4 separate regions of the Homo sapiens genome follow, and all the other regions are linked to region 1. The links come from fine-mapping of genetic effects on gene expression. A gene starts in region 1. Each other region holds a variant in brackets. All regions are shown on one strand. Distances are between the middles of the regions.

Region 1 (2,690 bases):
CATTAAACACTGAATTATTTAGGTGGAATATCATCTAAAGCCCAAGCCTAGTGCTTGAAAGCTTTTTTTTACAGGGCATTTCCATGGAGAATAAAATCATGGAGTTCTTCTTCAGCCTAAAGATGTGTGGTCATCTTTGCAAATGGGCAAATGGGTTGTCATAAAACATGCAGTAATTGTAAACCCTAAGTGGCTTCTACTTCCTGCTGTTAAGAGCAAATTTGACACAAAGCTTTTGTACCTTTCCTTGCATGGTCTTCGTTACTGGACAAGGATTTAGTAGTTTCTTTACCATGTCAAAACCAGTGTGGCAAAGGGCACATGTCGGAGCCCTTTACTTGGTGTTTTCTGAGTTCCATCGTGCTTAAAGCAGTGCCCTCCCCCTGTCTGTCGGGACCTGCCTCCTCCCACCTCCATCACATCCACTCTCAAAAATCACAAGCATTCCACAGGTCCATTGGACTCTTTAGTCAGGCAATCATGAACTTCCAGTTACCAATGCCTTGCTTTTAAAGACCAAATTGACAGTATATGCTAGAGGTTTTCTTTTCTTTATTTTTCTTTCTTTTCTTTTTTTTTTTTTTTTTAAATCAAGCTGCTATAGATGCTTTCTGGCTGACTGAAAGGAAAGAGAATCTCTGGTAACTGCTGAAACTTGTAGAGGTTTCTCTTAGTAGCCCATTTTAGAAAGCAGTAAGAGTGCTTGCTGCGTTGTCTTCTCTATGCTGTGTCCTGCCGATTGCATGGAATGTTCTTTAGGGTTTTCAACACACAGCTAGAAGCCCACAGCCGCACAGAAAAAAGGAAGTTGTTAGCTTACCTTTATGACAGCTATAACGATTTTGGAGTCCCCAGCCTGCACAGCAACTGAACTGACTGTCGTCGTAGAAAGCGCAACACTAGGACTTCCTTGGCTGGACATGGTACTTTAGAACCAGAGTTTATACTTTGGGCAGCCTCTGGACAGTTGTGTGTCTGCTGGTCATTTCAGAAGGCCAGGGTTACTTGGATTCATTCAGGGAAAGAGCTCAGCTCACACTGATTACTCTGCCAAAAGGAAAGAACAGGAGGTTAAAAATAGACAACCCCATTGAGTTTATCGTGAGAGAGAAAGGAGCGAACGAGAGAGAATTGCCACGCCCCTAGTATGGTGACACTAAGTGCCTGTTATTTTTGCTGTTATCTTAAATGTGGAGGACAGCTTCAAGCTCTTTCCTTATCAGCTGATGTTTGATAACAAATGGAAAAAAAAATTACATCCTGACAACCCAAATTAGTTTTGCCACCGAAACTATGCCATTGTAACCATGGACTTTGAAACAAGTAAGTCTTTGACCTGGTTATCAATCTTTTCAAGATTTTTGAAATCTCTCTGATGCAAAGAGAACTACCAAAGTGTACTTTAAAAAAGTTTTGGTATTTGTCTTGGGGTTAAGTCACAAATTGCTTAAAACACATTTTTAGATTAATCTGCTTTTCTAAAACTTACTGTTCTTTGCTAAATGAAGTTTAGATGGAATAGCCACATTTTCTCAGAGCCTCAGATTTCTTAGGAATTTTTAAAAAATATTTCAACCAGCATTTATAAATAGGTGCCTATCATTTCAGATTTTCTTTGTGACTATTCTGCTCCATTGGACAAGGTTTTCAAGTTCAGTTATTAATACCATGAGAAAGCAAAATACTTTGCTGTTACCTTTTAATTGCAGCAAGAAAATGTTTTCTGTGTGGTTAAAAGTTATTAAGACATATATTTTGCTGCAATTAAAAACAAAAACAAAAAGGAAAGTACTGTGCTTCAGGCTTTTTATTCCCTACCCCCACCTCCTGTTCAGGAAAATTATAGCCAGCTTCAAATCAGTGCCCCACATTGGTAGATTAATCCTATTGCTAGAAACTCAGCCTGTGTCACAAGTTGTCTGTGGTATTAAACAGCAGCTGTTGGATTCCCTGTCAAAGAACAGCTGAAAATAACACTAAAGTTTAGGTCAGAAGTCAGATGCAAACATATCAGAGTTACTAACTCCAAAGCTGCTGGAAGCATTGGAAATCTCTGGGACAAAGCCACAACAGAGAATATAGCAAAAAACAGTTTTAATGAATCCACTTGCTCTGTAAACCTTTTAGCCCAATTTAATAGTAGGTTCAGGTTCAGGGCCAATGTTTAGAAGACTGAGTCAGCTCCATTGCTTTGTTTTGCTAAGGTTCATGATCATATTCTTGATTCAAAGGGGAAAAGTACTTTTACACATACTTCAGTGTTCAATTATTTTTGTTTCCAAGAGCATGTCATGGCTGCTCTGCAGCTGTGTAGCCACCACCCATGTCCTCTGCGCTCAGCATCTGCCTGCTGCCCCAGTGAGATGGAAACCATACCTAGATCCTAGTCCCTATGCAACACGAACTTCACCTGACCCCATGAAGGGAACAATTGGAGCGAGCTCAGGAAAGCAGATGCCGAGCAAGCTATGATGTAGCAACTATTGCAAATGGTTTCATTTTATGGCAGGGCTGGAGAGCTTGCAAAGAGGTAACTGACCTGGAAGGTTGCAGGCAGGCTCCTTCTTTCACTTGCATCTGTGTGAAGAGACCACCAAACAGGCTTTGTGTGAGCAATAAAGCTGTTTATTTCACCTGGGTGCAGGTGGGCTGAGTCTGAGAAGAGAGTCAGCGAAAGGAGATAGGGGTGG
Region 2 (2,690 bases), 230 kb after region 1:
CAGGTAATGTAAATGACGTAAGTTAAGCAGCTTTAGGCACAAAATGTATTTGCTGTGTGTGTCAGAGCTGATAGCTCACTGTAGGACACAAAAACCTCTAAAAATAGTGCATAAATTATATTTTCCCCCACAATGTGAGAGATTGTCTTTTTCCCCATACTCTTTCCAAAAATGAGTATTTACAGTTTTTTTTTTCATTCATTCATTCAACAAACATTTATTGAGTGCCTTTTATGTTAAAGTATTATATTGGGAATTGAGGATGCTACAGCAAATAAAACAAAAATTCCTATCTTATGGAACTTACATTGTAATGAGAGAGGAGACAGAAAAAGAAGTAAAATGTGCATTTGTCAAAGAAATGTTATGGAGAAAAATTAAGGAGGGAGAAGTAATAAGGAATGGGAGATAGTTTGGGTTTTAGATTGGATGACCTGGAAGGTCTCACCAGGAAGGTAGCCACTGAACAAAGACTGGAGAAGGTGAGGGGAGGGAACTATGGGAATGTTCATCTGTAGGAAGAACATTTCAAGCAGAGGAAACAGCATATGAAAGGACCTGAGGTGAGGTCATATCTGCCAGGGCAAGGGGGAAAAGGGAATGGGAGGAGGGAAGAGAGATTGTATAGAGCCTTTTAGGGAATTGTAAGGACTAAGGCTTCAGCTCTGAGCAAGTTGAAAAACTTTTGAGCAGAGGAGTGATAAGTGGGGTTTGTATTTTTAAAGACTCACTCTGGCTGCTGCGTGCAACCAGAATGAATCCCTTGGGGGAAGGGTGGAAGTACAGAGACCAGCTGCAAGGTGAGAGCTACTACACAGGGCAGACATGATGGTGGCTTGGCCCAGTGTGGTGGCAGCAAGGGTAGTAGGAAGTGGTTAGATTCTGGTTATATGTTAAAGATAGAGCACCAGCATTTCCGGACAGATTGGATGGGAGGTGTCACTAAAACAGAAATCCAGGGATAACTCTGAGGTGTTTGGCCTGAGTTATTAGAATGATAATATTATATTTACTATGGAGAAGATTATGAGGAGGAACAGTTTGGGAAAGAGGCAGAGCTCAATAATTTGGCTTTGAAA[A/G]TGTTAACTTTGGGATGCCTATCAGACAGTAAGCACACATTTAGAATAAGCAGCTGGACAGATGAGCCTGGAGTTAAAGAAGGAGGTCTGGACTATAAATATACATTTGGAATGTGTTGGTGTAGCAGTGTATATATAATGTTAAAACCATGAGACTTGGTGAGATTAACTAGAATAGAGAAGAGGTCTAATGACTCAGCTCTGGAGTACTCTAACATTTAGAAGCAGGGAAAATGAGGAGGAATCAGCAAAGGAGACTGAGGAGAAACAGCCAGTGAGGTTGGAGAAAAACCAGGACAGTGTGTTATCCTGGAAACCAAGCAAATAAAGTTTTCAAAGGACGAGGGAATGAACAACTCGGTCAAATGCGACTAATAGGGCAACTGTTTCAGTCAGACTTTTTCTGAAATAGAACCAATAGGATGTGTGTATAGAGACTTTTTTTTAAGGAAATTAGCTCATGCAATTATGGAGGCTAGCAAGTCCAAAATCTATAGGGTAGGTGGACAGGCTAGATATCCAGGAAGAGCTCATGATGTAATTCAAGTCCAAAGGTCATCTGCTACACAATTCCTTCTTGCTCAAGGAAGGACAGTCTTTTGTTCTATTGAGGCCTTCAATTGATTGGATGAGGCCCGCCCATGTTACAGAGGGCAATCTGCTTTCCTCAAAATTGACTGTTGTAAGTGTAAATCTCATACCAAACCATGCTCACAGAAACATCCAAAAAGTGTTTGTCCAAATATTTGGACAATATGGCCCAGCCAAGTTGACACATGAAAATACTTATCACATAAAGGAAGGGTGGAACAAGATGGTGGAATAGAAGCCTCCACCAATCTTCCTGCTACAAGGATACCCATTTAAGAACTATCTACACACAAAAAAAACCTTCATAAGAACCAAAAATTAGGTGAGCACTGATAGTACCTGATTTTAACTTCATATTGCAGAAAGAGGCACTGAAGAGGTAAGAAAAACAGTTTTGAATCACTGATGCCACCCCTCCCCCATCCCCCGGGCAGCAGTGGCGTGGTGCAGAGGACATTTCTATGCACTAGGGAGAGGGAGAGCCAGCATCTATGAGGCATTGAACTCAGTGTTGCCCTTACTGTAGCAGCAAAACCAGGCCAAACTCAGCTGACATCCGCCCATGGAGGGTGCATTTAAAATAGCTCTAGCCAGAGTAGATTCACTAATGCTGGCAGTCGGAACTTGAGTTCCTGCAAGGCTTACCACTGCAGGCTAAAGTGCTCTGGTGCTTCAGATAAACTTGAAAGACAGTGTAAGCCACAAGGACTGCAACACCTAGGACAGCCCTAGTGCTTAACTGGGCCAGAGCCAGTGAACTGGGTGGGGCAGAGGGTTGGGGGCCACGCAAGCTACTGGGACATCATCTGGGACAGCTAAGGGAATGCGAGCATCACCCCTCCCTTAACCCCAGGTTGCACAGCTTGTGGCTTCTAAAGAGACCTCTTCTTTCTGCTTGAGGAGAGAAGACAGAAAAGTAGGGAGGACTTTGTCTTACCCTTTGGGTAGCAGCTCAGCCAGAGCAGAATAGGGCACCAGTCAGAGTTGTGAGGCTCCTGTTCCAGGCCTTAGCTCCCAGAT
Region 3 (2,690 bases), 220 kb before region 1:
ACAAACAAAATGTATCCTCCTGAGTTTAATTTCAAGTCTTTGAAAAGAATGCAGTCTTCAGAAATTAGATAGGAATTTAAGCTCTAATTCATAAAACATCACTTTCCTCCATGGAACTAGTTGAAGATTACATATTAACAGCACTCCTTTAATTTAATATTCTAAAAAAACAGCATCTAAAAAAAAAGAAATAGTGAGCAGGAGGCCGGTCTGATGACAAATTACATTAAACAATATCATTATCCTTAGCCCTCAGTGTTTTCCATTTTCCAGATGTTTAAAAGACACAAAATGAAAACTCTCAATTGCCCAAGAGGTAGATGATGAACTCATTTTCCAGACAGGAAACTGAGGCAATGAGGCTTTGCCATAAAGTATAAAAATGGTCATCAGCAGAATCAAGATTAGAAGCAGAAACACCTGGTTACACATTGCTGCTCAAAACACATCAATAGAATGTCAGGAATAACGTTGGTTCTTTCTTGCAACCTGTGTTCCATCTTGCTGTATGACATGCAGAGCTGACAAAAGATGGAAACTCTATTTAAAGTTGATGGCACATCTATCCTCCAATGTCAAACCCGTGAGAGCAACATGAGGAATGATTATTTACAATGACATCATCAGACTCAGGAACGTAGTCTACGTTGAAATTACACAGAATGCATTTCGGTAACAAGATCAAGACATGGAAAGCAAAATTAAAGGACAGCTAATGCAAAAATACAACATCAATTCAATAGTTCTACTGATATTCCCTACAAAGGGATGTTTTAAAATACAATTAAAAATATATTATTGAACAACCATATTTGAAATTTAGCACATTTCTATGCCGATGTCAGCCTTCATCTGCACGCCCTTAAATTAGGAGGGAATAGGCATAGAATAATTTTGCTGCATATTATGTTGAAAACATCTGTTTCTAGAGTACAAAAATCTGTTCTTATCCACTACAGATAATTTACCAAGCTTCTCAAATATATTAAACGCTCCAGAAAATTTGATTATTTCACCTAGCAGTGGTATTAGCCAAACAAGTATGGTGATCAGACTGGAGATACACTTGGTGGGAGATGCTTTGCAGGAGGTGCAGGAAGATAAACGGCGGCACTTTTCTT[T/C]AGGCACATGAGAATGATGTCCATTGGTGCCAACACCACAGTTATTGTGTGAGGAGCCAGTACATTAGGGACACACTAACATAGACGACACACAGGGTTATCCAGTTTACTCTTGTGATTGGCAGCCTGCAGTTACCTGTCACGTGGAGGATGACATTGGAAGAGAGAGCGCCGCTAGAGTTTTGGGCCCGAGCCACATAGAGGCCTGCGTCTGCCTTGCATACCTTTGGAATGAACACCGAATGCCTTGTCTCCTTGTGTAAAACCTGTAAGTGCCCATCTGCAGACAATTTCTGGCCCTTCTTGTACCTGAAGCAGAGAGGCAGTTTTTAAAGTCAGGATTGCTGTTTATTCACATTATTTCCAAGTTCTAATAATGCTTGCAAATAGGCCCATTACCACTGCAATATTCTCTTAGGATTAGTAGGAACCTTGTAGCCACAACAAATTCCAGTGGGGCTCTTTATCTTTTTTTCTTTAGTAGGCTAGATTGCAGTAGCAGAATCAGAGATCATTGCGGTCTCAAACTCCTGGGATCAAGCAATCCTCCCACCTCAGGCTCTCAAGTAGCTGGGACTACAGGCGCTTACCACCATGTGCAGGCTAAGTTTTTTATTTTTTATTTTTTTTAAGAGATAGGATCTCGCTATGTTACCCAGGCTGGTCTTGAACTCCTGGTTTCAAGCAATCTGCCTGCCTCAGCCTCCTGAGTAGCTGGTATTATGCGCTGTTTATCTTTCAAGCAGAAGTTGGCAACTGGTGGCGAGAGAATTGCTTTGACTGGCTCAGACAATGTTTTTGGAAAACTGAATTTTTTGAAATCCTTTAAAAATTGGAATATTGCATATGAAAATTCAGATATCCAGCTACCCCTAAAAACAAAAACAAAAACAAAGCAGACCATTTGGTCACACTAGGCCACCATTTGCTCATAGTAACAATTACCTAGGGTGTGAAATGGCACCCTCATGTTGTCCAGCTTTATTCTTTTTGCCACTCTGGAACAGCAGCTGTGACTCCTTATAAACTGCATGGGAGTGAGACTCATCTACCCCATCATATTCATACCACAGTATCCACAGGACAATACAGATGTGCTGTTTTAGAGGACTGTACTTAATATCACCTCCTGATGAGATCACTTCATTTAATTTTTTTGAAGCAATTTCATTAGAAGAAAATGACTTCTAATTATAAAAGGTATTTATGCAACTGTATTATGACTATTAATAACATATTTCTAGAAGGTTCCTATGAACATGAGTGCTTAACTGCATGGTTTTATAAAGAAATAATTTTATTTTGTATGTCTGAGATTCTTGTTTATTTATTTCTACCCACAATCTATCACTCAGGGGTGATGACAAATGTGAATCGTTTTCTGTTCCCATTGCCTAAGTGATAACTTTGCCTTTTCTTGGGTATCCTAAGAATGTATGATATCCTGAAAGCTTGTCAGTTATTAATTGAGCACAGTTGTAAATCTGACGACAAAACATTTGTTTACAACATTGCAATATTCTTCAACGACACGTATGTAGCAGTGCTTCTTTAACCACACACATACTA
Region 4 (2,690 bases), 190 kb before region 1:
TTATTTTTCGTGAGCAGTTCTGAAAAGAGTTTTACCCCTTAGATATAGACCATTAACTTCAGAGATCCTTCAAAAACAATAAAAGTAAAGTGAGAGTTGTTGCTAATGACGGCTATGCTAACTTGTGTATAAATAAAGCATATAGCTATACATAGGGGATAGATTTTGACAGTCTTAACAACAGTTCAACTTTACCAGTGCACCAAATTTCTAAGCAGTGCAGTTCCATTAAATGCACCACTTTCTGTCCCTTCTCTATATTTAAGAAGGATAAGCATATCGACAGGCAACTCTCTCTTTGTATTATCACCAAAGAGAAGTACAGAGAAAAAAACACCTTCTCAGATTATATGGAGGCATTTAACAGCAAGAGTGAACAATGTCATGGTTGATAAATTTGAGCTAAGATAAGAGAAGTCAGAAAAGCATTAAAATTCTTTTCAATGATAGCAAACAAATTATTTGGGAGGGAATAAAGACTGTGCATGTGCTAGATTATAGAATTGTAATGCAGAAAAATATACTTGCCCTACAAAATGCATGCTTTCTCAAAATGCTTATTTCAAATTCTGCAGACTGTGAAAATAAAGCCTTTATCTTATCTGTAACACATCTTAGAGACATCAACTTTAAAGCCCTAGTGGAATTGCGAACGGAAATTATTATACTGATAGAATTTTTGCATCTGATACACATATACTTAATCAGTGTTGTTTAGTTTATATGGTAAATAAAGTTGTTGAACATTACTTTAAGTTACAAACTAAACCAAGCATAGAGACCGCATGAACCACTTTAACTGATAAATAAATCAGTAATGTTCAGAAAAAGTGAAAAGCTTCAGAATTTGAACATTATTTCTCTATTAGAAACTCAGGGGAATATTTAAAAGATCATATTCAGTTGATATATTTGTGAAATAACTAGTAAGTATTTACATTCTACGGCACTCAATGTTTTAATGTGCGTATGTTTGGTTTTAACAGGAAAGGATAAATAATGTCAATTTTATAAGATTGAGATATAAAGGCGTTATATCCTTAGTAATTTACATAAAATTTTGGCAGGAGTTTTTGCAACTACATATATAATAAG[T/TACC]ACATCTGAGGAAACCAGACATTATTGTTTTAAAAAACATCTCAATAATGAGTTACTATTTAATGAGTGCAGAGTTTCTGTTTAGGTTGATAAAAAAGTTCTGCAGATGGATGGTAGTGATGGGTTCACAACAATGTGAATGTACTTAATACCACTAAACTATACACTTAAAACAGTTAAGCTGGTAAATTTCATGCTATGTGCATTTTACCACAATTAAAAATAAAGGGAAAAAATGCCCTGTCACTAACACTTATCCATTGGAAAATAAACTTATATATTCTTCTACTTATATATAAGAATATATAAAATATAGTCATATATTTTTCTCTACTGAAATGTGACATATATCAGAAAACCTTAGTCTAGAGAAAGGAAGAGGGGCTCTGTCATTAACCTGATAACCATTGGATTACATCTGCTTTAAATGGGAAAGTTCAATGTCTATTTGAAACCTATATGATAGAGAAAGGCTGAGATTTAATACTTTAATTCTCAACCATGAGATTTTAAATCTACTTTGGATTAAGAAATTTAAGACTGATAAATGATGAGTGTGATTTGATTTCTGTTTGCTTCAGAACGTGTGCACTTCCACTGAAGATGATTTATAAGGTCAAAGAATGTTCATGACACTATGAGTATGTGAAATGGGATCAAGTTCTTTCTGACACATGAGCTCCCTTGACAAAGTTGCTGGCACTTTTCTCTTTTGGTTTCACTGGAAATCCATTTTAAAACTAAATCTCTGTGCCTTTTTCAACTCAAATTCAGGACTACTGCAGATACAAGTGGAAGGCAGTATGCATGAAACTACCTTCAGCGATTGAAAAATCTTGCCATTCTTAATTTTCTTACCTGCACTTTCCAATATGAAAACTTAACTTCCCATCTAATCCCCACATAACTTGTGGTCATATTTTTAAAGGAACTGAGTGCCATAGTCGCTGGGCTGTGGTATCACTGTTCACACAGCTGTTTCTAACTTTAGTCAACTTGTCAACAATGGGGAATGGCGGGATGGGGCTGAGACAACTGCTCAAGTTGAGCACATAAGTGGAGAAAAACACCCCAAGCTTGGGGTGAGAAAAAGTTTACCCTGTTAGAAATCTTGAAATGGTGTTATAATTCATATTAAAGTTCCTCAAAGTCTTCAGAAAATTAGGGAAAATATATTTTTAATGAATAATTTTATTTTCCCATCTTTTCACATGTTCAGCTCTTCTATATTTACCATAGAATAAACAGACTGAGTTAACATAGCTATAATTAGAAATAAGTTATTAAGATTTAAAAACTATAGCTATTTTGAAATTAGCAGAATGAGCATCTTTGCCAAATTTTCCAGCATGCCGTAAGCCCCTTCTCAGGGTTAGGAATAAACAAAGCTTCTTTGGAAAGAAGCAGAAGGGAAAGAGGCTGATGCCAAGTGAGGCTGGCTTGCTATTGTTAGTCTTGACGAAGCTGGTTGAGCCAGCTTTGGCATAAGAATGTATTATTTATAAGTTTGCTGCTGTCAAGGCCAATTTGTGTGAGGGACATGGGATATTTAAAACAGAAATGCATTTAATGCATTTAAAAAGAAAGCCTTTCCT

Direction of the effects. Positions count from the first base shown, and alleles are read on the strand shown. Sizes are in standard deviations (SD) of each study's normalised expression. Not every link is listed here.
For the expression in caudate of the gene that starts at base 1,118 in region 1, A is the low allele of the variant in region 2 and G is the other (small effect, 0.26 SD a copy in GTEx).
In carriers of allele TACC in region 4, the expression in skeletal muscle of the gene that starts at base 1,118 in region 1 tends to be higher than with T alone (small effect, 0.19 SD a copy in GTEx).

The links.
Region 2: its variant is fine-mapped to the expression of CCDC141 in caudate (GTEx, PIP 0.98).
Region 3: its variant is fine-mapped to the expression of CCDC141 in whole blood (TOPMed, PIP 0.99).
Region 4: its variant is fine-mapped to the expression of CCDC141 in skeletal muscle (GTEx, PIP above 0.99).

The regions. Positions count from the first base shown.
Region 1 is chr2:179,049,020-179,051,709 of GRCh38, forward strand. CCDC141 (coiled-coil domain containing 141) reads right to left here and starts at 1,118. Exons shown (of 24, transcript NM_173648.4): 1 at 821-1,118. The coding sequence starts at 922. RefSeq lists enhancers at 615-664, 855-1,104, 1,115-1,194.
Region 2 is chr2:179,274,145-179,276,834 of GRCh38, forward strand. No RefSeq gene overlaps it. Among named protein-coding and RNA genes, the nearest start is that of SESTD1, 11 kb to the left of the region's middle. RefSeq lists an enhancer at 753-802. The variant A/G (reference allele first, on the strand shown) is at 1,080.
Region 3 is chr2:178,833,011-178,835,700 of GRCh38, forward strand. CCDC141 (coiled-coil domain containing 141) reads right to left here. Exons shown (of 24, transcript NM_173648.4): 24 at 1-1,430. The coding sequence ends at 1,163. Among named protein-coding and RNA genes, the nearest start is that of TTN, 27 kb to the left of the region's middle. The variant T/C (reference allele first, on the strand shown) is at 1,122.
Region 4 is chr2:178,857,348-178,860,037 of GRCh38, forward strand. All of the region lies in intron 17 of CCDC141 (coiled-coil domain containing 141), which reads right to left. Among named protein-coding and RNA genes, the nearest start is that of TTN, 51 kb to the left of the region's middle. The variant T/TACC (reference allele first, on the strand shown) is at 1,096.